Regions from separate parts of the Homo sapiens genome. Here all the other regions are linked to region 1. Evidence: fine-mapped expression QTL. A gene starts in region 1. Each other region holds a variant in brackets. All regions are shown on one strand. Distances are from middle to middle. Region 1 holds the start of ALDH5A1 (aldehyde dehydrogenase 5 family member A1). Region 2 overlaps ALDH5A1 (aldehyde dehydrogenase 5 family member A1). Region 3 overlaps CARMIL1 (capping protein regulator and myosin 1 linker 1). Region 4 overlaps GPLD1 (glycosylphosphatidylinositol specific phospholipase D1). Region 5 overlaps GPLD1 (glycosylphosphatidylinositol specific phospholipase D1).

The links.
Region 2: its variant is fine-mapped to the expression of ALDH5A1 in whole blood (TOPMed, PIP above 0.99).
Region 3: its variant is fine-mapped to the expression of ALDH5A1 in vagina (GTEx, PIP 0.93).
Region 4: its variant is fine-mapped to the expression of ALDH5A1 in monocytes (TOPMed, PIP above 0.99).
Region 5: its variant is fine-mapped to the expression of ALDH5A1 in skeletal muscle (GTEx, PIP 0.99).

The regions. Positions count from the first base shown.
Region 1 is chr6:24,491,770-24,497,371 of GRCh38, reverse strand. ALDH5A1 (aldehyde dehydrogenase 5 family member A1) reads right to left here and starts at 2,403. Exons shown (of 10, transcript NM_001080.3): 1 at 2,022-2,403. The coding sequence starts at 2,375. It also overlaps a transcript of GPLD1 not described here. RefSeq lists a silencer at 2,008-2,397.
Region 2 is chr6:24,521,971-24,528,440 of GRCh38, reverse strand. It overlaps ALDH5A1 (aldehyde dehydrogenase 5 family member A1), which reads right to left. Exons shown (of 10, transcript NM_001080.3): 7 at 5,516-5,674; 8 at 275-444. Among named protein-coding and RNA genes, the nearest start is that of ALDH5A1, 30 kb to the right of the region's middle. RefSeq lists a silencer at 5,938-5,987. The variant ACTTCTGTTTTGT/T (reference allele first, on the strand shown) is at 2,736.
Region 3 is chr6:25,448,775-25,453,774 of GRCh38, reverse strand. It overlaps CARMIL1 (capping protein regulator and myosin 1 linker 1), which reads right to left. Exons shown (of 37, transcript NM_017640.6): 6 at 3,780-3,877; 7 at 3,366-3,436; 8 at 3,064-3,137. It also overlaps a transcript of LOC124901281 not described here. Among named protein-coding and RNA genes, the nearest start is that of CARMIL1, 170 kb to the right of the region's middle. The variant A/C (reference allele first, on the strand shown) is at 2,255.
Region 4 is chr6:24,460,245-24,466,714 of GRCh38, reverse strand. It overlaps GPLD1 (glycosylphosphatidylinositol specific phospholipase D1), which reads left to right. Exons shown (of 25, transcript NM_001503.4): 10 at 1-35; 11 at 3,920-3,985; 12 at 6,316-6,436. Among named protein-coding and RNA genes, the nearest start is that of GPLD1, 26 kb to the left of the region's middle. RefSeq lists a silencer at 3,643-3,843. The variant A/G (reference allele first, on the strand shown) is at 2,917.
Region 5 is chr6:24,438,074-24,444,543 of GRCh38, reverse strand. All of the region lies in intron 20 of GPLD1 (glycosylphosphatidylinositol specific phospholipase D1), which reads left to right. Among named protein-coding and RNA genes, the nearest start is that of MRS2, 38 kb to the right of the region's middle. The variant C/T (reference allele first, on the strand shown) is at 3,367.

The DNA of each region.
Region 1 (5,602 bases):
TACACCAATCAACGCTCTGTAAAATGCACCAATCAGCGCTCTGTAAAACGCACCAATCAGCAGGATCCTAAAAGTAGCCAATCGCAGGGAGGATTGAAAAAAAGGCATTCTGATGGGACAGAAACGGAACACTGGAAGGGATAAATAAGGGAATAAAAAGCTGGCCACCACGCCCCACCCACCCAGCAGCGACAACCCACTCGGGTCCCCTTCCGCGCTGTGGAAGCTTTCTTCTTTTGCTCTTCACAATAAATGTTGCTACCACTCATTCTTTGGGTCCATGCCATCTTTAAGAGCTGTAACACTCACTGCAAAGGTCCGCGGCTCCATTTTTGAAGTCAGCGAGGCCACAAACCTACCGGCAGGAACCAACTCCGGACACACTTACCTCCTTTGGTCTTTGTATCTCATGTCCTCAATGAGACCTACCCTGATGTTACGGGCTGAATGGTGCTCCTGGCAAAATTGACATGTCGAAGTCCTAACCCCCCAGTATCTCAGAATGTGAGTGCATTTGGAAATAGGGTCTTTAAAAAGGGAATTAAGTTATGATGAGGTCATTCTGGTGGGCCCCAATCCAATCTGACTCCTGTTTTTAAAAGAAGAAGAGATTAGGACACATATACACACAGAGGAAAGACCATGTGGAGACACACAGGGAAGATTCATTCATATAACCAACTGCTTACTTTACATCCTCACTTGGGCGTGAACAGACATCTCAGACTCCATGAGTCTAAAATTGAGGTCTGATGAGATACAAAGACAAAAGCTGAGCTCTCTGCAAGCCAATGAGAGGCCTTAGAAGAAACCAACTCTGACAACACCTCGATCTGGGATTTCTACCCTCCAGAGCGGTAAAATGAGAAATGTCTGTTGTTCAGGCCACCCAGTCTGTGGTACTTTGCTATGGCAGCCCTAGCAGAGGAATATGCCTGGTCACACTGTTGATGCTGCATCTTGCCCCTTCCCTCTGGCCCGGATCCTCTCCTGCTTCTACCTTTTTTCCATATTGCACTCAGCATCTCTCACATACTTATTTGCTTAGATATTATGTTTGTTGTTTAGAGTTCTGATCTCTCTTCTGCTCCCCTTCCACCCCATGTGAGCTCCATAAGGGCAGAATCCTTCTTTCGTTTAACTGAGGTATCCCAAGCACCTCCAACAGTGCAGGGCATACAGCAGGTGCTCAGTAAACAGCTGATGGATGAATGAGTGCTAAGACTCTCTTGTACTCGTAGGGATCGCTGGATGCATTCCTTCAGAGGGAGAGCTTTGAAGGACACGGTAAAAAATTTCACTGCGTTGACTCCAGGTTTAATAATATAATATTAGAAGGAAGAAACTACTTTCTTAGTTTTCTTCTTACTCTATTCTTCCCATTTAATGGCCCTCCACCCCTTACTCCCAATTCTCCAGTGTTCTCTATGCAATGGCCAATAGCAGCATTTATCCATTTAGGGTGAAAACCTGGAGAACGCTCCTGGATTTCTCTCTTCCCCTGCACAAAACCCAAATCTTTCTACAGTTCTCTCCGTTTCCGATCCCATGATTCTGGCCAGGGGCCCTCACTACCAGCCTTCTCAAGGGCCGCTGAAGCAGCCTCCTGCGTGGGCTCCCTGCAGCTGCGGAGATATTTCAGCTACTCTGAAGGGCCACACGTGCTCTCACTTCCCTGACACCCCTCCCCTTTCTCCCCGCCCCTCCACGGTTAGGCTTGTTGACCATAACAAGCAGCTCGCTTGTATTAGGCGCTCACGTTCTGCCTCCCCTACTGGGCAGTGCATAACTTGATGAGGCTTGAGGGCAGGGGTCGTGTCCCTAGTGCCCGGCTCAAAGTGGAAGCTCCAAACTTATTTGTCGGTCGTCTCCCTTGTTGCTCTGACTTTCCACTTTGTATACCCTGGGGAACTGAGCACAGGAGGGAGGCGACGCGGCTGGTGTCACTTTGGGGTAAAGCCCCCTCTGCTCCCCGCCGTGTCCCCGGCCAGCTCTGGCCCCCTGCATCCGGGCTCTCTCACCTTGGCGGAGACCTCCCTCCAGCGGCAGAAAGCCTCGTAGGCAGCGCGCACGGCGGCGCGGGCCTCTCGCACCCCGCAGTCGGCTACCATGCCCAGAGCGGCGCCGCTGGCCGGGTCTTGCACGGGGAAGGTGGCGGCGGCCGGGAGCCAGCGGCCGCCCACGAAGCTGTCGGTGCGCAGCAGCGCCGCAGAGAGGCCCGCCAGGCGCCCAGCGTAGCAGCGGAGCTGGGCCGGGCCGGGCGCAGGCCCGGAGGCAGGGACCAGGCCGCCGGCGCGGGGGCGGAGGCGGCAGCCTGGAAACGTCGACCCGAGGCGCCGGGCCCCACAGCTCCGCAGCCAAATGCAGGTCGCCATGGCCCGGGCAACGACGGCGACAGGAAACAGGCAAGCGGGCGCGCGCGCACGGGAACGCAGGGGTCGCGGGGAAGCAAGAGGAGCGAGGAGGCGCCGGGGACGCGCGGGGAAAGCGTGGGAGCTGGCGGAAGGTTGCAGAGCCACAGAGCAGCGCCCTCTCTCCGCGTCTTTCTCGCTGCACCGCCGCGCCGCCCTCTGCACCTTGCCCTAAGCGCCGCGCGGCTTCTCTCCTGGCGCGACCTTCTCCCGGGGGAGGGTTGGGTTCGGGGATGGAGAAGGCTCGCCAGTAGATGCACCTGCGGACTGCTGTCACCTTTTCACTTTTCGGGTGCTCATTTGTCACTAACTGCTCCTGAGCCCCCAATCGCTGCTAGAGACCCACTCTCTCCCCTTAGCATCCCCCAAATTCGGCATCCCCGGAATTTGTGCGCGGTCCATAGATGCGCTGGTGCCTGCCCTAAATGCCAAGGCCGTGATCACGCTTCTTCAGTTGTAGCTCCTGAGCACGTAGTATTGATTGGGAGCGATCGTTCTCTGAGGGGTCGAAGTGTGACCCCGCGTTCTGCTGCCTGGCTGCTTTTTTGGGTGTGTGTCTAGGCATTCTCCTAGGGTTGCTCCCGATAAATAACAGCGCTTTGGAAATAAACAGACTAGGATCCAAACTCAAGTCTGTTGCCGACAAGCTGTGTGACCGACAGGTTAACCTTAGTCCAGTCACTTATAAAATAGAACCATATCTACCCCATTTTGTTGTGAGATAACGTAAAATGCTCATTACAGTTGCCACATTAAATTCAATATAGCGTTCAAAGTCATACTAGCTACCCTAGTCAAGCCACTAGTAAGATTAAAGTTGGGTCACCAACTAGTAAATGGAAGCATTTGTCAAAATTGAATCAACCAAGGTATAAGGATTGAGCATACTATCCAACCAAGGTATTTGAGCACCTTTAAACAGCATTCTTCATCCGTTAAAAAATTAGACTTGGGCTTAAGACTCTGAAAGCAGCAGGGAAGCTTAAAACCTAATGAGGATAAAAATAAAAATAGCAGGCGTATGCTGGGAATTTGTGGGTGCAAATGAAGCCCAGCCCTATGCATTGATTTTAGGTTACATATCTCCCTTTCTCAACTCCTACAGCGTTGAGAGTATCTTGCTAGCTTTCACCTTTTTCTAGGACGTTGAATTTTTTTCTAGGACATTTGCAAAATGCCGAGGCAGTAACTTTAAATTTTGACTTTGTCTTTTGCTGAGTCAGATCCATTGAGTTTTGAGCCAGTCACATATGGCAGAAGTGATAACAGTAGAGTTTAATCAATTTCACACTATTTTGCTCTGTATTTTATTGCAGGAACTGGGGAGAACCAGGGAGTCCTAATAGGGATGTGGGCCAGTAGGTATCACAGGTGGGGCTGGGGAGCTGGCGTGTTTACATCTCCTGCCTGCGGAGGGAGTTTTTGTTTTTGTTTTGTTTTGTTTTTGGTGGTGGTTTTTGTTTTTTGTTTGTTTTGTTCTTGTGAGACCGACAGACTCATTCTGTCACCCAGGGTGGAGTGCAGTGGTGCGATTTCAGCTCCCTGCAACTTCCGCCTCCCGGGTTCAAGCGATTCTCCTGCCTCAGCCTCCCGAGTAGATGGGGCTACAGGTGTGTGCCACCAAGCCCAGCTAATTTTTGTATTTTTAGTAGAGACAGGTTTTCACCGTGTTGGCCAGGCTGGTCTTGAATGCCTGACCTCAAGTTATCCGCCCTCCTTGGCCTCCCAAAGTGCTGGGATTACAGGGCTCATTTCTACTGGCCTGGGGAAATCATTCAATTGAGGCCTCAATCAACTGAGGCCCAGAAAAGCCAAGTTAATTGTGGCTGCCTCTCTTGTTCAAAAATTACCCTAGCCCACTTACCTTTTTAAGGTTCTATTTCAAACGGTACCCACTCCCTTTCCCAGATGACTTATCCATTACGCACAGTAGGTACGATGCCAAGGGCCCATAAAACTTTTAGGAGCACTCACAAATGTTTAATTTATTCTAAAATCTGAAGAAAAGAAGTTTTAGGTGGCATATTAATATGTTAATCTTACACCAATGCAGATGTAAAATGTGATTTCTATTTATTGTTTACTTATTTTTGTGACAGGAAGTACTTCACAAAGGCAAAAGCGCCTGGAGCTTAGAAAGTTCACAATGTGGCCCTCCCCTTTTCCCTCAGTTTTGTGCCCCTCTTCAAGCCCCCATTCAGAGTGTAAACAATTTCCTCCTGGCTCCTGTCTTACTTCCAGCCTGTCCTGATGCCCCCTAGCGCCTGGCTGGGTGTCTGTCCTTACCAGGGCCTACAAGGACAAGACCATCAGGTGAGAGGGACCTCTTCCCTCCTTTCTCCTTTGGCTGCCCTTGTCCTGGGAACCTCCACTCCCCAGTTCCCACCCTTATTCATCCTCTCCCCCATTTTCTTTTTCTTTTTTTTCTTTCACTTTTTTTTTTTTTTTTTTTTTTGAGTCAGGGTCTTACTCTGTCGCCCAGGCTGGAGTGCAATGGCACGATCTCAGCTCATTGCAACGTCTGCCTCCTGGGTTCAAGTGATTCTCCTGCCTCAGCCTCCAGAGTAGCTGGGAGTACAGGTGCGCGCCACCATGCCTGGCTAATTTTTGTATTGTTTAGTAGAGATGGGGTTTCACCATGTTGGCCAGGCTGGTCTTGAACTCCTGACCTCAGGTGATCTGCCCACCTCGGCCTCCCAAAGTGCTGGGATTACAGGCATGAGACACTGTGCCCAGCCTCTTCTCCCCCATTTTCTAGACTGGCCCACATAAAGCTTGAGACCCTCTGGCTTTCAAACCTGTATTCTCCCTACTCACTCCTTAATGTAACTGTATGTTTACTTTTCACCTTGGGTCTCTATTTCCAGAAGAGTTCTAAATGGTAGAATCATGCTGTCTTGTTTATAACAAAGCCACCTATATTAGGAAAGGGGGGTGTGGGGCAGAAAGAAAAATATTTCCATATGCTTATTATTTGTCAGATAGTAATATTGTGAGCTACGTTTTAACTTTCTTTAAAGTCATATCTTTGATGTTTTTATTGTTACCAAAGTAATACAAACTTCATAAAACTGCAAGCAATATTGTCATATAAAGACCATATTCATAACTATCACACTAAGCAAATAATTTCCTCTTATTTTATTACATTTATACGTTTATGTCATTCTGAATCTCAAATACAAAAAAAT
Region 2 (6,470 bases), 31 kb before region 1:
CAGTGAGCCAAGATCGCACCATTGCACTGCAGCCTGGGCAACACAGTGAAACTCCATCTCAAAAAGAAAAAAAAAATAGAATTTGATAAATTTTATGGTCCAAATAAGTTATGATTTTTTTAAAAACCCATAAATTGCACTCTGCTCTTCAATGGACTCAACACAACTGTCTGCCTCCTGGCCAGACCTCAAAGCAGCCCAGGAATCTCTTTCAGGGTTTCCTATGTTCTCTTCTATTCTTCCTCCCATCTCCCCGCTGGCTGGAGGATCTTACTTGATAACTGGTGCCAGAGGCCCGAAAGTCTCTTCATGAGTGCACAGCATGTCCTGGGTGACATTGCACAGCAGGGTAGGCTCAAAGAAATTTTTTCCAAGTTGGTGTCGTTTTCCACCTGTCACAACGGTGGCACCTTTAGAAACGGCATCATTCACCTGTTTCTCCACCTGTGTAATGAGGAAGAAAAAAAGCTTTCCACATGATACAATCTTTTAGAATGTTTAAACTGCAGAAAACTATAACTAGTTCCATTTTTTTTTCTTTTTCAAAAAAAGTAGGTTAACAATAAAGCATGCTGGTTTCCTTTTGTAGAAGGAACCACATTTGCAGAGATTCAGAAGCAAGAGTGCCACCTTCCTCCTTGGTCTTTGATATCTTCTAGCTGTTTGATCTTCCTATTTGTTGAATGGTCTAATATATATTCGCTTCTTTCTAGGCCTGCGGCTCAGCCGTTTGCTTGGATTTGCTTTCATTGCATTCTGCGGTTATTTCTAGCTTCTTGGATCCCATGTTGTCCTATTTCCTGAACTGAGTTTTTGTTGCTTTCTGACACACATAATCTCAAGTAGTTGTTATTTATTTATTTGTTTTTGAGATGGAATCTCGCTCTGTCACCCAGGCTGGAGTGCAGTGGCATGACCTTGGCTCACTGCAACCTCTGCCTCCCAGGTTCAAGCGATTCTCCTGCCTCAGCCTCCCGAGTAGCTAGGATTATAGGCACCCACCACCGCGCCCGGCTAATTTTTGTATTTTTAGAAGAGACAGGGTTTCATCATCTTGGCCAGGCTGGTCTCGAACTCCTGACCTCGTGATTCACCCGCCTTGGCCTCCCAAAGTGCTGGGATTACAGGAGTGAGCCACGAGGCCTGGCCAAGTAGTTGTTTTAAAAAAGATGCACTGGATGTGGTCTAGTTTCTGAATTTTCATACACCAAGTTTCTGGTGTTTTGTACTCCACCTGATTGATAATTTGCTTGAGTACAGAATTCTGATACAAAATAACTTTCAGAACTTTGAGTGCACTTCTCCACTTCCGGTGTTGCTGAGGAAGTTTGAGCCAAAAATGGTTCTCACCCTTTTTCTTCTTGATAGCTTTTTCCTCTCTGAAATCTCCTAGGATCTTCTATGCTCTGATATTCTAAAATTTTAGCAATACTATATATATATATATATATATATATATATATATACACACACACATATATATATATTAGATATATATATAGAATATATAGTAGATATATATAGAATATATATATAGTAGATATATATATAGAATATATATATAGAAGATATATATATATAGAATATATATATATAGAGAAGATATATATATATTCCCTTTTCATTCATCCTACTTGGTAAGCAGTGAAATCTTTCAATCTGCAGAATAATTATTTTCCCCTAACTCTGAGAAGTTTCCATCTATTATTTACTTGGTAATGTCACTTCCTCCATTTTCCCAATTATTTCACTCCAGAACTCCTACTACTGGACGGGTATTAACAGGAGTTCAGATTAGTTCTGATTTTTTTTTGCATTTCTATTATATTTTTTGCCTCTCTATAGTTTGCTTTAAACTCCATAAGATCTCCGAAATTTTATCATCTACTTCAGGTACCGAATCTTGTGACAGTCATATGTCTAATTTCTACAGACTCTTTGTTTTCATTGCTTCATTTCCTAGAACATACTTCTTTTTTTATTATTATTATACTTTAAGCCTAGAACATACTTCTTATTAACAGTTTACAGATGTACTATCTTCCCAAAACTCTTGCAGGACACTATGAGATTTTTAGAAAATTTCCTTCCAGTTCCCTAATTTATCTGCTTCCTTCAGGGACTATTCTGTTTGTTCTTCCTGACCTTTCCTCTTATGTGCTGGTGGTTTTCCCATCATGATCCTTGGTTGTTCATCTTTCTGAATGAAGGACTGAGTTGTCGAAACTAACCTGGTCAGCTCCTTCTCAGCTCCAGCAGTGTGTTTGGGGGACACACACACACACAAGGACTGGGTTGATCAATTTGGGGATGTGTGGCATGAGTGGTCTTTGCTGTTTTAAGCTTGGGTTTATTCTAACTTGCAGGCTTCACATAAGGGCAGCTCCCTTCCCCAAAAGGCAAAGTCGAGAGAGCCCTACCCTGAGGTACCTAGCCTCGCTCTTGAAGCTGTAGTCTGCCTAGATACCTACTATATTTCTTCAGAAAAGCTGTCCTGCCCAGAACAAATGCCTCTGCTGTCTCATGTGTCTTGGTGGTGGTCGTGGTGAGAAGGGATGGTGGGAATGACCCAGAAAATTGTGCAGAAGTAGAATCAACCAGCTTCATCTCCTCCCCTCCTCCTATTCCTACTTTCTGTAGCCACCAATTCTAGAAAGGCTCTGTCGTTTAAAATGGCACCAATTTCCTCTGCAGGGTTCCCCTGGGTAGACCCATCTATTTTGACTTCTGTTTTG[ACTTCTGTTTTGT/T]TGCTCAGGCTGGGCTGGGGTGCACTGGTGCGATCTCTGCTCACTGCAACCTCCGCCTCGTGGGTTCAAGAGATTCTCTTGCCCCCGCCTCCTGAGTAGCTGGGACTACAGGTGCTTGCCACCACACCTGGCTAATTTTTCTTTTCTTTTTTTTTTTTTTTAGAGATAGGGTTTCACTGTGTTGGTCAGGCTGGTCTCAAACTCCTGACCTCAAGTGACCCACCCGCCTCAGCTTCCCAAATGCTGGGATTATAGGCGTGAGCCACTGTGCCCGGCCCTCAGCTGAATTTTCTATAGGGTTTCAGGAAGGTAAATATAGGTGTGAGTGCATTCTGTCTTTGAGACTGACTCTTTTGAAATCCATGCCCCTCCTGCAATGCTCTCATAGTGCATCACCTGCAACTAATCCCCATCGGCTAGGATGGCTTACTTTCTATGAATTTTATATTATAAAAATAATTCTACTTAACAAAAATACCCCCTTCCTCCCCAAATATAATCTGCTCTGCCCTTTTCTTGTCATATTAATGTGAGATGCAGTGTTTTTTTCCTAGAACCCACTCTATGACAGTATGTACACTAAAGCCAACACAATGAAGTGTTTTTAAACAAGGTGGTTTCCACCAAATTTCTCTCCAGCAAAAAAGAAATCTCGCTGTCTGCTTGTTTGAAGTCCTGGCGTACAGCACCATCTGGAGGACAATGTCTGCGTCTTCCCTTTGGGGAAAAAAATCTTCAAGACAGAGTGGTTTCCCAGACTGGCTGCAAACTAGCATCATACTGGGGCACTTAGAAAATGCCAATGCCTAGGCTGACTACACATAAATTAACACCTAGTCTTCTTGGATGGGTCCCAGGCAACTGTAGTCGATAAAGGCACGGTGTGAGTTAAGGACCACCACTCTAGGACTTGAACCACAGCTGGCCTAGACCCAAATTGCCTTCACTAGACAAGTGAATACCCCTGCCTTGTCCCCAAGGTCCAAAGTCACCTCTAAAATGCAGGTGGTTCCAATGTAAATTTTAATGTATTTTCTTTATCTAGAGTAATCCCAAGACAGTAACTAGAAATTTATCAGAGCTCTGTCAAACCTCGAGGCTTCCCTGGGTTTCCCAAGGCAATGGATGTGGGTTCAGCTGAGTTGACTGCCCACGGGGTGGAGGCAGCCATGGAGTCAGGGCTTGGTTCTCAGGCTCTGAGGAGGTTGAGGAACAGCGGTGGGGCTGTGCTTCCCATGATGAGTACTGACTTGGCTGTCACTTGCTTCTGGTTCTTCAGTTGCATCCAGGGGCTGGCTGTGCCTCCACTGTGTGTCTCCCTCTGACCACCTCTCCTCCCTTCTTTCCCACACACAATCTTCAGCTTCTACTGTCTTCCTGATTTAAAATATTCCGTTAAAACCATTTCTGGGTAGGCATGGTGGCTCACGCCTGTAATCCCAGCACTTTGGGAGGCCGAGGCAGGTGGATCACCTGAGGTCAGGAGTTCGAGAGCAGTCTGGCCAACATGTGAAACCCCAGCACTACTAAAAATACAAAAAGTAGCCAGGCGTGGTGGTGGGTGCCTGTAACCCCAGCTACTCGGGAGGCTGAGGCAGGAGAATCAATTGAACTCAGTGGGGCGGAGGTTGCAGTGAGTCAAGACTCACCACTATACTCTAGCCTGGGCAACAGAGCGAGACGCCGTCTCAAAAAAAAAAAAAAAAAACACAAAAAACTGGATGTTTGATATTACAAGAAACTTTCTTGTGACTCCAAAATGGATTTTTTTAAAACAGTAGAATAAGGAGAGAAGTCTCATATAGCTAGTAGTATGGATTATAACATTTTTTTAAACAAACAAATCTTTCCTAAAAGCAGTTTCCCCTCAATATCTCTAAATCCTGAACGCGGCATCTGTGATTCTGCACCCCCGGCTGGGATACTTTCATGAAGGACTGTTTTAGACAGGGATTTTGTCATCAAGAGAAGAAAGAACAGGACAACATCAGCATTACAGCCGAAACGCAAACCATCTCAAAACCAAGCCAGTCTTCCATTCCATAGGTGTTCCAAAAGATGAATGAACTTTGTCTCAAGATCCTAATTGCTGAGGCAGTGAGGGATAGAATTATCATCACTATAACAAAATTTAGGGAGGACAGTAAAGAGCTACAGTGACAGACCGCATGGGGACTTGGTGCAATGGCAGGGCTATAGCAGCTCATGACCAGACAACAACCCGATTCATATAACTGGTAGGCAGAATTCACTTTTCTCAGGTTTCTCCATTGTTTACAAAATAGGCTTGCTGGGCACTTTACCAAAATGACTTTTTTGTTTTCATTTTTTTTTTTTGCCTTTTAACATCATTTTTTTTAGCTATTATTAATTTTTTACTTATTTTAACCTTTGTGGTTTTTGTATGAAAACATCATTGAAAATTCCATTCGATTCCATGTATAGATGTAGATCTCTCATACTCTATACTCTAATCAGGATAGTTAGCACATCTATCGCCTCAAACATTGATCATTTCTTTATACTGGGAACGTTCAAAATCTACTCTTCTAATAATAGCTATTTGAAAATATACAATACATTGTTGCTAATTACAGTCATTCTACAGTGCTGTAGAACACCAGAGCTTATTCCTTCTGTCTAGCTGTAATATTCTGTCAACCCACCCCTCTCTATCCCCACCCCTCCAGCCAAAGTGTTTTTTGCTGATTAAGCTTTTCATATTGAAACCATGAAATTTACTTTCACAAATAATACAATATACTTACCTTTTCTACCGCTTTTTCATTAATTAATGGGCCCTGAGTAGTTCCTTCCTCAAATCCATTACCTACGCGCAGGTTCTTCTTCATGGCCTCGGCGAATGCTTTTACAAAGGCATCATGGATGCCCCTTTGCACCAAGAATTGGTTTGAGCAAACACAAGTCTGGACAGGAGACAAAAACAAACCCACACAGTCTGTCAGAAGCTGCAGACCTGACCAGTGAACGTGTGGCTGCTACCGCCTCTCTGTGAAAACACTTCCCTCGGTGGTTGTCATGTGCTCAAACTGCCATTTTCCTCCTCACGTGGGCTTGGCCCCAAAGATAAAAGCACTGAGTCAGTGCATGTTCCCCTCCAGTTCCCTCCACAGCTGCTATGCTACACAGCTGCTATGCATCAGTGATTAGTTGGCAATAAGCACCTGTACACACACACACACACACACACACACGAAAGAAAAGAAAAAAAAGCCACCCAATCCATGTTTTTTTCAAATGGCTTTTATTTTGTTTCCCTGGGGGGTGGGGAAAGAGTGCAATTCTCCTAGGAGACTGTGATGCTGCAGCAACAGCAGAGGCTAAGAGGAATGTGGTCCAACACCAACTTATAGTCTTTTGTTTTGCTGACACAGGGTCTCGCTCTGTCGCCCAGGCTGGAGTGCAGTAGTGATGAGTTCACTGCAGCCTTGACCTCCAGGGCTCAAGTGATTCTTCCACCTCAGCCTCCCAAGTAGGTGGGACTATAGGCACTTGCCACCATGCCCAGCTAATTTTTAATTTTTTTTGGCTGGGCGCAGTGGCTCATGCCTGTAACCCCAGCACTTTGGGAGGCTGAGGTGGGTGGATCACCTAAGGTCAGGAGTTCGAGACTAGCCTGGCCAACATAGTGAAACCCATCTCTACTAAAAATAGAAAAATTAGCTGTAGTCCCAGCTACTCAGGAGGCTGAGGCAGGAGAAT
Region 3 (5,000 bases), 960 kb before region 1:
CACAGGTTCAAAATCGTTTTCATAACAACTCTAAAACAAACTTATCCTTTCACTGTGTTGCCCTTTGCATGGAAGGTGCAAAAGCAATGGTGGGGAAAACTGCTAGCACCTGAGCACAAGCCAAGGCGGGAGTCTTCACTGGCACAAGCTCCTAGTTTTTTAAACAAACATCAATTTCATTTTAGAATGTCCTCAGTGAAGCAGTAAACATTACTCATTTTATTAAATTTTAGCTCTTGAGTACAAACATTTTAATATCCTGTGTAACAGAATGAGAAGTAAGTTCAAAATGGGAAGTATGTTCCTCTATATATCAAAGGGATCACTGTCTCAATGTAAAGTGTTTGTGTGATAGTTGCATTTTTAAGCAGAACCAGCTCCTTTTTTTCAGTGGACTATCACAAAAAAATGACAACGTATAGTTATTTAGATTTGGGATTTGGTAGACATTCCCTCTAAAATCTAAGAAGTAATCTGGTCACTTCAAGATATCACTTCACCTGATAATATGTTTGTTTTTTTTTTTCCAATAGTAAAATTGTATCTTTCAAGCAAAAATTTAAATTTTGGAAAACTTTTGTCTGCTACTATGAGCTCAACACCTCTGAAGTACTTCAAAAAACTTTTATAATATCAGTGATGATAGTTATGAAATGTCTTTCTTTTTTCTTTTGCTATTATACAAGAGGAAGATACTTGAAAGCTATGTATAACTCAATGAACCAATATTTTCTAAGTTACCAATGTACAATGCTACAAAATTATGTATGGATAAGACCCAGTCAAAGGAGAAGATAGACCAAACAGACTTTAATGTAACAAAATACAAAAAAGTTCATTGATATGGTTCTGATTCTACATTGCAACTTATCTTTAAGAAACCACCACTTGTTGAGTTTTGGTGAAGTACCAAGGAAGAATAGCCACAATTATGTGAAAAGGCTATTGAAAATACTTCCTAACTACACATCTTTAAGGCTGGATTTTCTTTTCATACTTCAGTCAAAACAACATATCACAATTTTGTGAATGCAGAAGTAGATATGAGCATCCACTTGTCTTCTATTAAGTCAAACATTAAAAAGATCTGCAAAAAGATAAGCCAATGCCACTCTTCTTGCTGATTTATTTTTGTTTTGGAAAATATATTTACTTTTTCATAAAAACAGTACCTATGTTAGTACGTAATGGTTTGCTTTATTAGTGTCACTTTTTAATTAATAAATATTTCAAATTTTAGTTTTAATTTATAATATTGTAAATACCAATGTTTTGACCCACAAAAACCAAAGATCGATCATTTTTAAGATTGTAAAGGGACCAAAAACGCTGAGACCAAACACTGGAGGACTGTAAACTTCTATCTTATTCCACGTGCAATTTTCTTGTTTTATTGGAAAATACTTACAAAGTAAAATATTTTCCCTTTTTCTTTCTCAGTTCACTTTTTTATGAGCTACACAGGAAACATCTTGTCTAAATTTGAAAGTATAAAGTTGCCTCACTTATAGGAAGAAGGAGAACTGCTCTAAGCAGGAAAAAAAAAAAATTGCCTGAGAACTGGAGGCTTTAGGCCCATCAGCCACAACTACAGACACAGCTGAGCCTGCTTCACCATCTTCCGTAGTCCCAGGCTGTGCAAAGAGGAGGTATATCCAGCTAGTATACTTTTTCCCTGGCCGATTCAGTTGGCTAGAGCTCTTCAGGGACCACACTGCAATTCTGGATTTCCTGCCAGGTAGGTGGAAAAATAATTCAAAACAGTATTCTGGGGGGGGGAGGGGGGGGCAAGATGCTAGTGATGAGATGACATATGGGCAACAACAATCCTCTGTGACACTTCAGTTGTCCAAATGGCACAAATGATATAGCTGGAATCCCAGATTTCTCTCCCAATTCCAATCAGAGAGAAAAGATTTATTGGGTTGGAGTTTATTAAGTAGGGCTGACCCCTGCCTACCTGCTACTAATTTATTAAGTAGGGCTGGAGTTTATTAAGTAGGGCTGACCCCTGCTACCCCTGCTACTAATAAGTAGCAGCACATCCAGAATTGAAGAGATTGGGATAGGCCAAGATAAATTACCAGACACTCTGGAATAGGGCCGGGCTCGACTGTTAGAGAGCAAAATAAATTTGCCAGGTCTGCTGTGCTAAGAGACATGGGGAAAAATGAAGCTTTTCTCTGAGGTCTGAATCTCACAAGCCATAGCCCTAAATATATTCAAGTCAAGATCTTAAACCTAAAAGTTTCTC[A/C]AATAACTTGTAACAGGTTTCATGACTTTATTATCACTATCACATGGCAGATACTGGCAAACTGATTTTCACCAACATACACATATACACCCTACCAATGCCCAATTCATAAACTCTGAACTAAAAGTCATATCTCAGAATTTCAGTATTAAAGTTCATCCTTGAAAAAATGTTCTAAATGGCAATTAGGTAAAATAATACTACATTTTATAGACAGGGTAGAATAGACAGACTTTTGTAGGCTGACATAAGAACCTAAGAATTATACTGTTTTTATGGTAAAATTCAGCACATTTTCTAACTACGAACTCTGGATTTTGGATACACACATGCACTGTGGACCTCCACAAGTCATCCACAGTGATAAACATATTTGAAACTATAACTTGAAAGGCAAAAATCTAGAGATTCTTAGATTGTACTGATTCCTCTTATAAAACAATTCTTTGGAGATAATGTACAGCCCTAAGTGCCAACAGAGAACTGCAGGAAAGAGAAGAGAGGGGAGAGGGGAGAGGGGAGAGGGGAGAGGGGAGGGGGAGAGGAGAAGAGAAGAGAGGAGAGGAGAGGAGAGGAGAGGAGAGGAGAGGAGAGGAGAGGAGAGGAGAAGGAAAAGAAAAAAGAAAAGAAAAGAAAAAAGAGAAAAGAGAAGGGAAGGGAAGGGAGGGGAGGGAAGGGGAGGGGAGGGAAGGGGAGGGAAGGGGAGGGGAGGGGAGGGAGGAAGGGAGGGAGGAAGGGAGGGAGGGGAGGGAGGAAGGGAGGGAGGAAGGGAGGGAGGAAAGGAGGAAAGAAGGAAGGAAGCAGCTTACCTGTGGTCAAGATGACTAAAATCTTGTAAATTCAATTCCCTGGTGTCTTGGGTAAGATAAATTGTATCCACATCCTATTTGAAATATAATTCAGTCATGTCATCAGTCCATGCAGATGACCAGGAAAGCAAGAGAGACAGTGAGAATTAGACAATGACAATGGCAGGTTTTTATGTAATCTGAGAAGTGAAGATTTTAAGTGAAAAATAAATGAAGGGAAAAAAAGAAAAACAAGCCAGCCAAACATTAGAATATTCTCCAGGAGTGTGTGTGCTCATGCACATGTACACAGACATTCTTACCCATTGTACTTCTTCCCTGTATGAAAATCCAAGCCAGTCACAAACACAGGCATACATCTGAGAAAATCCACCTGAAACATACAACAAAAACACTGACAGGTCTTTGGCAAAATGATGTTTAAATTAAAATTTTAAAGCTTAAATATGGCCGATGTTGACAATGCTGATTATCCTTTTCCTTTTTAGGGGGGAAAACAGCAAAGATTCTCCTCCCTGTTCTATAGTAAGTACATAGCAGGATGCAATACAGCTTAAATATAGGACTTTTGTCCACCAATCTAAAGTCTGTGCGCTGCTAATTACACCTTGAAACTAATTGCACCTTTACAGTAGCACACTAGGAATAGACTTAACTTCCTGGCAGGGGGATATCCATCCAGCTATTCACATTTCAGTTTTAAAATGCATGCTCACCACAGGGGCCCTGCTCAGCCACGGTCTGGCTGTCCCACAGCGCCTGGAGACTAGCCAGGCGCTCAGATGGCTCCATGGAGACTTTTTTCATGATTCTCCTGTAAGATCAACAACAACAACACATTTCACAAACCACACTTTTTGACTGCACATAGAAATAAATTTTGTCACATTCCTTTTTCTTCAACAAAGATGAGGGTCACTTCAATTTCAGTTTTTCTTCAATTTTTCAATTTTCAATTTTTTTGAGCACTAGAGAGCTAGAAATCTAGAAAACATAATAAATCCCTATAACTTTCCTTTGTAGATGAAAGGTATTTAGCAATGCAGTCTCCATGTTATAGTTTTATAATGTTAGATTTTGTTAGAATAGTTTGAAAAGTTGCTCCACTTAATGAATTATTAGATTACGTATATACCAAATATAAATTACTAATTTTCAATTAATTAAAGTAAAAATCTCTTCTGTCCTTCTATAGTGCCTTGCACACATGTCCATCAAGAAACTGATCAAGTCATACTGGAATAGTTGTTCCTTTTGCTACCTCTTCCCCTGGGCCATGATTCTTCTGGGGCAGAGAACATATGCAGCTCCTCCCAACCCCCCATCCTCCTCCTCAGAACCTAACAAAGTTCATGCCCACACATGCAGAGACAAGACAGAGTAGTGGTTAAAAGTACAGCCAACCATCCCAAAGTTTCCTTTTTCAGGAACTGACACATTTCTGAATTTGTCAGTTTCTGAGATGTTATCCCATAGGGTTATTGTGAGAAAAAATGATAATAGTACCTATCAAGTTATTAGAATAACCCCCCCAGGGCTGAGCCTGTAATTCCAGCACTTTGGGAGGCCAAGGCAGGCGATTACTTGAGCCCAGGAATTCAAGGCCAGCCTGGGCAATGTGACGAAACACCATCTATACAAAAATTAGCCAGGTGTGGTAGTATGTGCCTATAGTCCCAGCCACTCAGGAGGCTGAGGATTGCTTGAGCATGGGAGGTAGAGGCTGCAGTTAGATTGCACCACTGCACTCCAACCTAGGTGACAGAGGGAGACTCTCCAAAAAAAAAAAAAAAAAGAAGAATCCCTGGTGTGTGGTAATGTCAATATATGTTAACTGATACTGTCATTAGTTATCACAGAGTAATCATTTAATGAATAGTTTATGAATTCATTAATTCACTCAAAAAATTTTTATGAAAGATCTACAGAGTGCCAAG
Region 4 (6,470 bases), 31 kb after region 1:
CATCTAACAAGCTTCATGTTGGAGAATGGGACCAGGTGAATTCATATTGCATTTCTATTACCAATCACTCTCTGCCTTTTTACCCCATCCCCCAACATAACTCTCAGGTTTTTCAACTGATCACATAAAAACAAAACAAAACAATCTCATGAAGTGCTTTTCTAACCTATTCAAAGAGGGAAAGAATGGAAACTCAGTGATCTTATAAACTTGACTGGTTCCCATCCAGTTGGCTTGGTTGATGCTGCTCGTGTTTTAGAAATAGAGAGACAGTTATTGCAATATTTGGGGTCTGTGAGAAATGGCTCAGCCAGGCAGGAATCAGCCTCCACAGGTGGTGCTCCATTTGTTTCTTTCTTTTTATTTTGAGACAGAGTCTTGCTCTGTTGCTCAGGCTGGAGTACAGTGGCACGATCTCGGCTTCACTGCAACCTCTGCCTCCTGGGTTCAAGGGAGTCTCGTGCCTCAGCCTCCCAATCAGCTGGGACTACAGGTGTGCACCACCATCCCTGGCTAATTTTTTTGTATTTTTAGTAGAGATGAGGTTTCGCCATATTGGCCAGGCTGGCCTGAAACTCCTGGCCTCAAGTGATCCACCTGCCTTGGTCTCCCAAAGTGCTGGGATTACAGGCATGAGCCACTGCACCCAGCCTCCATCTGTTTCTTTTGGGAAAACCCATGCTGGGGGCTGGAGTGCCAGGTCTCCACAGGTCCCAGAGTGGCTGTGTTCTTGCTGTGGTGACACACCTCTCCACCCTGACTACACTCTCAGGGTTTCAGGGTGTCAAAGGATACCTCACCTAATACTAAAAAAACAGAAGCAAATAGAGCTATAGCTACATGCCCCGACACACACTCCAACGTAAAATGAGAAATAAATGCATTTGTAAAACATTCTGTTGAAATTTGACATCTAGCCCAGATGGGACAGCTGCTGAACCTCCAGTTCCTTTTCTTCTCCTAAGCATGCTCAGGACAAGAATTAATCAGAAACTCAGCCGAAATATAGATAAGGTAGACTGTGATTGTCCCCACTTCTAGCTGTAGTAGATCATTAGACTCTCACAGAGTCTTACACTACCCCTAGATCAGAGGGAGCCAAGGCCCTTCTGATAACCCATTTCTTTCTTTTTCTTTTTTTTTTAAGAGCACATGTGTTTTTGTTTTTTGTTTTTGAGATGGGGTCTTGTTCTGTCACCCAGGCTGGAGGGCAGTGGCATTATCTCAGCTCGCTACAACCTCCACCTCCTGGGCTCAAGTGATTCTTGTGCCTCAGTCTCGAGTACCTGGGACCACAGGCTCACACCACTGCACCAGGCTAATTGTTTGTATTTTTGGTAGAGATGGGGTTTTACCATGTTGCCCAGGCTGGTCTCCACCTCCTGAGATCCAAGTGATCCACCCGCCTCAGACTCCCAAAGTGCTGGGATTACAGGCATGAGCCACCATGCGTGGCCGGAAAACCCATTTCTTTTTTTTTCTTTTCTTTTCTTTTCTTTTCTTTTTTTTTTTTTTTTTGAGACAGAGTCTTGCTCTGTTGCCCAGGCTAGAGTGCAGTGGTGCGATCTCGGCTCACTGCAACCTCCACCTCCTGGGTTCAAGCAATTCTCCTGCCTCAGCTTCCCGAGTAGTTATGACTACAGGTACTCACCACTACACCTGGCTAATTTTTGTATTTTTTGTAGAGACAGAGTTTTGCCATGTTGGTTGGCCAGGCTGGTCTCGATCTCCTGACCTCAAGTGATCCACCCACCTCTGTCTCCCAAAGTGCTGAGATTACAGGCGTGAGCCACCATGCCTGGCCCAGAGAACCCATTTCTGATCATGCTGTTGGACATGCAGCCTCTCCCCACTACTGACCTGAACCGGGTTGAGATGTGGGTGTGGCTAGGAAGCACAGGGCAGCCCCCGAATCGGGGAAAGGGCAGAGCGGGAAGCTTAGGCTGTACCACCAGCAGTGGGAAAGAGGGTTCTCTGGGCGGGACCTGTGCCTGGGAGACTGTTCCAGGTCAGGATCATAGCAGAGTTAGCTGTTCATAAGTTGGAATGGCCTACAGAATGTAGATCCAGAATATTATACTGGGTGATATTCCTTTACCCTTATAAACATTTGCTAGTACCCAAACAGTGTTAACCATAATTATATATTGTGTTGATTTGAAACAAAATTCCCTTTGATGACAAATTCGACCTTAGCTTGGTACATAATAAACTTGTTTTTAACAATCGGTGAGTAACAATTTGGCAGGGATAGCAATCTCATATGAATGCCACTTTTAATAGTGAAATAAACCTCAACTAAAATCCCCAAGCTCTCCCGTGGACCTGGGTTTTTAGGTGCATACTGCCGTGGTTGTACAGAATTTAAGGGATCTGCCACTCACTACTGAGTTATCTGGAACAAGTTGCTAAACCTTCCAAAATCTTATTTCCTCACCTATAAAATTGGGACAGCAATACTATTTTTACCATAGGATTTTTGTGAGGAGTAAATTAGATCAGTCATGTAAAGGGTTTAGAATAGAGTAAGCACTTACTAAGTATTGGTTACTATTATTATTAGAAGGAAGCAAAGTTTGTATTGGAAGGACTCATAACATAAGGGCATGTTTGAGTGATTGACCTGCACTTACTTGTTTTATATAATCCAAACTGGAAAACATTTTTTGGTGTTCAATTTTGGTTTGGTTCTCCAAATAGCTAAGGAAAGATAGCTGGACCTTATTCTTTCGTTAGGAAAAGATAATTGAGAAAGAACATATTTCTTGTCTCTTGATCCCTGTCCCAATTTACCAAGGTGTAAAATTCCATGAGTTGATTGCTTGTTTGCATACATATACAAAGAAAGATTCATCAGAATTTATGAAAATGTATGGGAAATTCAGAGAAGTCTCCAAAAAGAGACAACACAAAAAA[A/G]TTCATAACAGAAAGGAAAACATAAATATGTTCATAGTAACAGGCATTTCCCAGCTTACTAACACAGGTTATCTTCCAAAGCTCACTTATGTTATTTGGTATATTTTCCTTAAAAAAGCAATGAAGTAGTGGTAGTTACATTGCCAAGAACTCTACTCACCTCAAACTCTATTTGAAAGTATAGTGCTAATGCTGTAAGGCTGCCTTTTGTGTCCTGTGGTGGACAAGAAAAGGTCCAAAGAGAGAACCTTTTCCTCAGCTCAAACCTGGCCAGAGAAATGTTTTGGTAGGAAGAGTCTGCCTTCAGCTTTTTCCCACCTCCTTTTTGGAATTCCTTTTTCAGCAACTAATTTTCTTCACCCCTACACTCCACATTACTTTTGTATTACCCCAGCCTCCCTCAGTGACCTCCATACAAATCTTAAGATAGTCTTCATTCCAGAATACTCTTCTTATATTAATACCTGCTTCCTCAGTGCTTCTGTTCAGTGTTGGGGGAAAGCCTCTATTGGGAAGAGTTTATCTCTTATGTTCTCAGAGGCTTTTTCACTTGTAAAAGGGGATCCTTCATTAGCTATTTAATTATTGAAATTATGGAATTTTTTTTAAAGAAATGAAATTGAGAAATTCAGACACATTTAGGCATAAATGTGTATAATTGGGCAGAAGGTGACATAATTGGTAACCAGTGTTGATAACACTCTCAAATTCTGAGACGTTTCGTGTTAGCGTGGAACAGCTCAGCAGGTGGAGCGGGGAGGGAAGAGGAAGGCTGAGTCTGGGGTGACTGGCAGCATGAGCCTTCCTGGATTACCATGATAGTGACAACCGTCAGCCTACCCACCCTCTCTGGGAGAACATGGGCTCTTAATTAGTCCTGTATGGCTAGGTAATAAACACTTTAAGCCTTTGGGAGATGATTGAAGCGCACTACCGATTCTCGGTAAAATTCATGCTTGTGAAGAAGTAGATAAATGGCTAACTCATTTGACTGTTTCCTCAGTGACTGCAACCTGCCTGAGAACCCTCTGTTCATTGCATGTGGCGGCCAGCAAAACCACACCCAGGGGTAAGTGGATTCCAAAATTGTTCATAGAAAAAGTACATCTCACCTGGAGGAGATGCCCTATAGAGGTTGAGAACACGGGATCTGTTGAGAGACAGCTGTAGGTTCAAATTCCAGATTTGTCACTTGCAGCTGTGTGATTTTTAAACAAGCTGCTTGATTTTTGGAGCTATAGCTTCCTCCTTTTGCAAAATGGAAAAAGCACATCAACACTCCCAGAATTATGGTGTGGATGACATGCAGTGGTGGATGTAAAGCAATTAGCACATGTTGAGTTGCTCATTAAACGGTAGTTAGTGGCTGGGCACAGTGGCTCATACGTGTAATCCTAGCACTCTGGGAGGCTGAGGCAGGAGGATCCCTTAAGTCCAGGAGTTCAGGACCAGCCTCAGCAACATAGTGAGACCCCTATATCTACAAAAAATGAACAAAATTAGCCAGGTATGGTGGTGTGTGCCTGTAGTCCCAGCTACTTGGGAGGCTGAGGCGGGAGGATTGCTTGAGCCTAGGAGTTCGAGGCTGCAGTGAGCTGAGATCAGGCCAGTACACTCCAGTCTAGGCAACAGAGTGAGATCCTGTCTCAAAAAAAGAAAGAAGAAATGTAGTTAGTATTATTGTAACTATCAATATTATTGTCTTACTCATAAACTTCACCCAGATTTTACATGAAAATTTATTTATTGATGAGACAGTGTTGGGAGAAGCCCTCAATGTTAAGGGCCAGAAGCCTGGTTTGTATTTTAAGAAATGATATTTTCTGCTGGAGTCAGGTACCAACCGACAGTCATTTATGCATTCATTTAATAAGTTATTAATATTACAAATATGTGTATATTTATTAATAAAATAGAACAAAATAACACAAATAATAAAATATCATTTATTAATCAGTACGTGCCAGGAACTGGTTCAGGCACTAGAGATATCATTGTGAACAAGACAGAAACAGTTCCTGCTCTCAGGTATATGGCCTGGCAGGTAGCTGGGCACTAAACAAGTAATTGTGGACATTGTTAAGTGTTAGGAAGAAAAAATGCAAGGTGCTCTGGGGATTTGCAAGCGTCCTGGCCTGGGCACAGGAGGGTTCTCCTTGAAGAAGTGATGGCTTAACAGATATTTAAGTGTCAGGAATTAAAAATGCAGGGTGTTCTGGGGATTTGCAACAGAGCGTCCTGGCCCTGGGCACAAAAGAGCTCTCCTTGAAGAAGTGATGGCTTAACCGGGATATTTAAGGATGATCAAGAGTGAGATATACTCAAAAGTAGAGTATTGCAATGATAAAGGTACTGAGAGGAATGATCTTAGCACTTTGGAAGAATGAAAATTACACAGAAAGTGTTCAGTGAAGTCGTCATTGTTGTATTTGAATTGGGTAACTTTTTTTTTTCTTTTTCTTTTTTTCCTAGCAAACCATTCCTTCAACATACTTTGTTGTTGTTTAATCACATTGAGCACCTTTTGATTAGGCTTGCAATCTTTCTTGGGGTTGCCAGAACCCTGACACTAGTTGGTGTCATGCCCAGGGCCCCGTCACTTACGGCTGTTGTCCACTCCCTACTTCAGTCATTTCTGAAGCCTCTCTGGCTCCCTGAGTCATCTGCTTTTTGGCTGGTTGACATCTTTGAATGTGAAAATGTATTTTTATTGTATAATTAATTTTAGCATGTCTTTGAAGATAAATCAGTATGCTGGCTGGGCGTGATGGCTCACACCTGTAATTCCAGCACTTTGGGAGACCGAGGCAGGTGGATCACCTGAGCTCAGGAGTTCGAGCCCAGCCTGGCCAACATAGTGAAACTCCATCTCTACTAAAAATACAAAAAAATCAGCTGGGTGTGGTGGTGCATGCCTGTAGTTCCAGGCTACTCAGGAGGCTGAGACAGGAGAATTGCTTGAACCCAGGAGGCGAAGGTTGCAATGAGCCGAGATCGTGCCACTGCACTGCAGCCTAGGTGACAGAGCAAGACTCCGTCTCAAAAAAAAAAAAAAAAAATCAGTATGCTTGCAAAGCAGTTTCCCCACCAGCTGATACCTGTTGCTAAATTTTTTCATAATCTGGAAAGAATTGAAGCCTTTTACTCCTACCATAGAGCTCTGATATTATAGGAAATATGTTTTATAAGGATAGGCTTTTAAGCCTTAGAAATGTGTTTACTAAAAGATTTTGTGAAATGAAGGTTTTCTAAAACTTTCTGTGTTGCTCCTTCAGCCTTCTGACGTTAAAATTTTGTGGTCTTTTAACCTGTGATTAACTTGACTATATTCTTCAACTCAGTTTTACAGGGGGTTGTTTTCTCAGTCGTAACCAGTTTATTCCTCTTTCTCTTCAACAGCTCAAAAATGCAGAAAAATGATTTTCACAGAAATTTGACTACATCCCTAACTGAAAGTGTTGACAGGAATATAAACTATACTGAAAGAGGAGTGTTCTTTAGTGTAAATTCCTGGACCCCGGTAAGAATTTTCTGCTCTAAGTTGAGAAAGAGGA
Region 5 (6,470 bases), 53 kb after region 1:
TTATTTTGTTTACTTTATGGGAAAGATAGTCTTTAAAAAAAAAAATAAATAAGAACCATTTCCTCCCAGATTATAAAGGTGAATTATGCTTATTGTGGAAACTTCTGAAAATACAAGGAAATATATAGAAGGAAAAAAAAAACACCCCTTACCCAGATATTTAAAAACTGAAGCTTATACTATATATGATATTGTCATGCCTAATTTTTTTACTTATATCTTAAGCACATTCTCATGTTAGTAAATATTCTTCTAAAACATGACTTTTGATATCTGCATTGCATTTTTTTAATGCCAGCATTTACTAACATCATCCTGTTGCTGGAATTGTAGGCTCGTTTCCAGTTTCACACTATTGTGAATAAGTAATTATTGAACACTCATGTACCTAGTCTTTGACTGCCTTTCTGATTAGTTTTTTGGATAGATTCCTGGAGATGGAATTACTGGAGTAGAGGTTCTAATCTTTCTAAAAGCTCTTGTTATATATCATCAAACTATTTTTCAGAAAGATTGTTGTTTCTTGCAATATGGGAAAGATTTGAATAATAAGCAGAAGTGGGTCAGACAGGCGGGGTGCAGTGGCTCACGCCTGTAATCCTGGCACTTTGGGAGGCAGAGGTGGGTGGATCAGTTGAGGTCAGGAGTTAGAGACCAGCCTGGCCAACATGGTGAAACCTGTCTAAACCTACTAAAAATACACAAATTAGCCAGGCATAGTGGCACGCTCCTGTAATCCCAGCTACTCCTGAGCCTGAACCACAACAATTGCTTGAACCCTGGAGGCAGAGGTTGCACTGAGCCAAGATGACACCACTGCACTCCAGCCTGGGTGACAGAGTGAGACTCAGTCTCAAAAACAAAAAAACAAAAAAACAAGTGGATTAGGCAAAGGAATGGCTAAATTTTTCATTAAATCGAAGACACAGCATTATAACAAAAAAAAAGTGCTGACTTAGCTTTGGAATCATGTTGGAAGCCAAAAGAATGAGGGTCGTGATAACTCAGTATACCACTGGAGGCTATTTGAGTAAGCAGCAAAACTGTTTCTCATAAATGCAGAATGTTGGCAAACTGACAAACTGCATTTGCCACCCAGAAGGAAAGCTGAGGGCAGTCACGCCCCAAGTGCCGTGTTTCTTGTGATTAGGCACATCTGAAGCCTGTTAATAATAATATGAACCTGTGATCAATTAAGCAGCTGACCAATCGTTACCTCCTCCTCCCTGCTTTTGCTAACCAATAAATGGGAAGGGCTGTGGAAGCTCGGGAGCTAGCTGCCTTTGCTCACTAGAAGCCGGGAGCTCTCTTCTTCCTCGGTTCCCCTTCCTTTAAAACAGTTTCTTTTGCTTCAAGTTTTCATTTCTACGTTCGTCCTCCTTCGTTCAGTCTTGTAATGACGCTCTCAAGCAGTAACAGTAGTAATTGCTGTGATGACGGTCTCAAGTAGTAACCATAGCAGTCAGCCACAGAATCATTTTTGCTTTTCAGAGTCTAGGGAATGATTTCTAAGCTCTTGCAACACACATTATTAACTTTATTTTCTTCACCACTCTTTCTACCCAAGTGTTGTGAATTAGAGTTTCTCAAACTTTCTTGGTTTTGGTGCCCTTACTCTCTTGATAATTTTTTTTCCTATGATAAAGTCCAATATAAAATAGAAGGTCAGGCATGGTGGGTCATGCCTGTAATCGCAGCACTTTGGGAGGCTAAGGCAGGAGGATCACTGGAGGCCAAGAGTTCAAGACCAGCCTGGGCAACACAGTGAGACCCTGTCTCTACAAAAAATTTTAAAAATTGGGCCAGGCGCAGTGGCTCATGCCTGTAATCTTAGCACTTTGGGAGGCTGAGGTGGGTGGATCATGAGGTCAGGTGATCGAGACCATCCTGGCTAACACAGTGAAACCCTGTCTCTACTAAAAACACAAAAAATTAGCTGGGCGTGGTGGTGGGCACCTGTAGTCCCAGCTACTTAGGAGGCTGAGGCAGGAGAATGGCGTGAATCCCGGAGCCAGAGCTTGCAGTGAGCTGAGATTGTGCCACTGCACTCCAGCCTGGGTGACAGAGTGAAATTCCATCTCAAAAAAAAAAAAAAAAAAAAAAAAAAAAAAAAAAAAAAAATTAGCCAGATGTGGTGGCATGCACCTCTGGTCCTAGCTACTCAGCAGACTAAGGTGGGAAGATTGCTTGAGCCCAAGAATTTGAGGCCAGCCTGGACAATATAGGGAGACCCCATCTCTACAGAAAAAGAAAAAAAGGTAGGCATAGTGATGGGCACATGTAGTTCCATCTACTGAGGAGGCTGAGGTGGGAAGATCACTTGAGCCCAGGAGTTCAAGGCTGCAGTGAGCTATGATCACACCCACTGCACTCCAGCCTGGGCAACAGAGTGAGACCCTATTTTTTAAAAGATAAATAATAATAGAAAATAAGTTTAATTATAACTTTTATGTATGTATATAATATGCTAATTTATAAAGTGTGTATAAGTATACTAATATATAATATAAATGTATATAATATGTATATATTATATATACATGTATGTGTCTATATATAATGTATGAATGTATATATAACTATATATTATATATAAATATGAATTAATGTCACCATCAGGTTATTGTTATTGATATATTTCACCCAAATTGTTCAGATTTTCCCATTATTACTTGTATTTTACTTGTATTTCACCCACACAGTTTGCGGGGCCCAGTTCCAAATAAAAATGCAGGGCCCCTTGTTAAAACATTGTTGACAATTTCAAGTCAGAGACAGGACAACATGAAGACAGGCATAGGTCCTTTCGAAATGCAGTGCCTGTGTGACCACAGGGGCACATGCCCTGCATTTATGTCCTAACCACTTAGCTTCTCTCGGCACTGTACAGCTTTTCAAGTCTTGGAATCAGGTTAGACACAACTTTCCTCATTTCCTAATCCACAGCAATTTTTTCATTAGTGCCTGCTTTTTATCACAACCATCCCTGAATATGCAGCTTTGCAAAGATGTGGCATCACTGAAACGAATGCAGGACTCTCGTGTCGTAACTGTGACCGGCCTCCACCCAGTAGTTCGTGTGGTGTCAGATGTCACTGTTATCTTTGAAATGTCAAAATATCTACAGCATCTTTGCCAGTTCACTGAAGCGCTTCAGTGTGCAGTTTGGGAATCACAGCTATAAGGCACAGATTAATCTAAATTTGAGATTTTTGATATACTTTTTTTTTTTTTTTTGAGATAGAGTCTCGCTCTCTTGCCCAGGCTGGAATGTAGTGGTGTGATCTCAAGCTCACTGCAGCCTCTGCCTCCCAGGTTCATGCAGTTCTCCTGTTTCATTCTCCTGAGTAGCTGGAACTACAGGCA[C/T]GCACCACCATGCCCAGCTATTTTTTTTTTTATTTTTAGTAGAGATGGAGTTTCACCATGTTGGCCAGGCTGGTCTCAAACTCCCGATGTCAGGTGATCCGCCCGCCTCGGCCTCCCACAGTGCTGGGATTACAGGCGTGAGCCACTGCGCCCAGTCACTATACCATTTTATATCAGGGGCTTGAACATCCGTGGATTTTGGTATCTGTGAGAGGCCCTGGAACCAATCCTTCGTGGATACTGAGGGATGGCTGTATTGTTTATAGTAGTAAAAAGCTAGAAATAGCCTAAATGTGAAAAGAATCAGATTTAAAATTTTATAATCCACAAAATCTCCATTTTGTTTAAAATGTGTGTTTATAGATATCTGCCTACCTACCTACCTATCTCACTTTCCAGAAAGAAATATATATAGTATATACATTTTCTTCTTTATGCTTTTTTTTTTTTTTTTAATAGTTGGAGTCTTGCTATGTTGCCGAGGCTGGCCATGAACTTCTGGGCTCAAGTGATCCTCCCATCTCAGGTTCACAAGTAGCCGGGACCACAGGCATGTGCCACAACACCTGGATTATGCTTCTTTTTTTTTTTTTTTTGAGTATTTTTTACACTTTTGATAATGATCAAATATAAAAGATCTTCTTGACATCTTCATAGTTTTGACTTTTGCAGTAATCCTGAAAGCTGGTGACATTAAGTAACTTACAGTTGATAATTTTTCTTTTTCTTTTTAAGCCATAGGGTCTTGCTCTGTTGCCCAGGCTGGAGTTCAATGGTGTGATCACAGCTCACTGTTACCTTGAACACCTGAGGTCAAGCGATCCTGCCGCCTCAAGCCTCTTGAGTAGGTCAGACTACAGGCACATGCCACCACACCCTACTTTTTGTAGTGATGGGGTCTCACTGCATTTCCCAGGCTGGTCTTGAACTCATGAGCTGAAGTGATCCTCCTGCCTCAGCCTCCCAAATGCTGGGATTATAGGCATGAGCCATCATGCCTGGCAAGTTTATAGTTTTTCTGAGACACAAATATGAACCACATTACAAGATGATATCCTCTTTCCTGTGGTTTTCAAGAGAGTAGAGTTGGTGAGATGCACCTGTGTTTCACAATAGCTCTTTTGTTTTCTGCTCCCTCCACTGGAAGAAAAGTTCCACATGAGAAGTAAAACACTTGTGTGTGTATTTAAAAAATACCCACCACCCCTGCATCCCAAACACAACCCTAGGGACTAGTGCTCGTGGCAGAAATTAAGGCAATATGGAGGTCTAAAAGATAATGGTCCTTAATCAGAGGGTTTAAGCATTACAGAAGGAATTCTATGTTAACTAGAAGGTATAAGCATTACAGAAGGAATTCTGTGTTATAGTAGCATTCTAGAATTTGGGAATTCATAAAGGCCTCTGCATGTAGCCCTTTTAAAAGCCAAAGTTCTTCAGAATTATTTTCAGTACTGAAATAATATAGAAATGCCTACAACATTACCTTGAGTTTTTTCTCCTTGTCTAAATGTGTATGATAATCCATTGTTTAATTTGCATGATTGAGAAGGTGAGGTGTTTTGAATGGCTGAAATTTCCAAGTGTCTAGATTCTTCTGTTTTAATTCTGAAGAATTAAAAAAACACTTTGATGAAATTATTTTAAATTATATGCTTCTCTTCTTTAACAGACTGTGATGCGTGTTAGAGATTTGGGAGTATTGATTAATTACAATTCTTCCTCATCCTTGTGCATTTCAAATCATTTCTGAAATAGATTCATGAATCATTCAGAGGGATATCAAAATATGTACTTTTGAAGAGCTGACATAGTTGGATTAGAGAACACAGTCTCAATGGGCAGCCCTATTCAGGCTTTCTAATTCTTGCTCCGAAAGCTAGACCTTGGGGTGACTTCTCTGAGATTCTCCCACATGCACTGGGGCCAGTGTTCATCCTGTGGGCGGCAGAGCCAGAGGGAGAAGCCTCAGGTATCCTCTTGCCATGGAAGGACTGAAGCAGGGAGTAGACAGAGAGCTGGAAGTGTTACTGGATTCCTGGGCGCTCCAGGGAGCTCATGGTTCCTTTAGGAGGCACGAAAAGAAAGGGAATGTGGCTGGGCTTGGTGGCTTGCACCTGTAATCCCAGCACTTTTGGGAGACTGAGGCAGGCAGATCACGAGGTCAGGAGATCAAGACCATCCTGGCTAACACGGTGAAACCCTGTCTCTACTAAAAATACAAAAAATTAGGCGTGGTGGCGCGTGCCTGTAGTCCCAGCTACTCGGGAGGCTGAGGCAGGAGAATCGCTTGAACCCAGGAAGCGGAGGTTGCAGTGAGCCGAGATCACGCCGCTGTACTCCAGCCTGGGTGACAGAGTGAGACTCCATCTCAATAATAAAAAAAGAAAAAGGAATGAAGATTTTCTCTTATTTCAACTTTTCTTGATATTTTGGGCTTTCACTCTGAATATTAACTGTTGTGCTGGCACATTGTTCTCTTAGGAGACATTGTGTTAGGTCATGTTGTTTGCCCTGTATCAGAAAGCTCCAGATTGCTGAGCTTTTAAAATACTCTTTCTTATTTCCTACTGTTTTCTAGCTGTTATATCTGACTGTTGTTGCCGACTCTGCTTTGAGCCCTCAGTGGCTTCTAGTGGACAGTTTCCCATAAACAAGGCACAAGTTTGTCCGAAAAAACAGGTCAGATTAGCTCAGTTTTACACACAAAACTCAGTGGACGCTGACGTGAGATTGTATCCACGCACTGACACTTTGCCAGCATACGGCAAACTTCTCAGAGGGCCACTAGCCCCATCAACCCACAGGTGCCATTTATATTTCTGAAATCAAAGCTGTGTTCCAAATAATAAAGTTTACAGCGAAATTCCAACAACTAGCTTTGAGTTTGTTCAAAATTCATTAATTCAAAAAACACTTTATTGAATACTTGTACAGAACCAAGCACCATGCTAGGTACAGTGGATAGAGAGACAGAGACGTGACCGCATTTCTTGTGGAATGGGCGCCTGATGCAGGAGACACAGAAGTGAATGCAGAGCGATGCTGCCCTGCCGTGGGTATTCAGAAGGCACTGGGCACAGCTCATGTCCCCTGTAAAATGC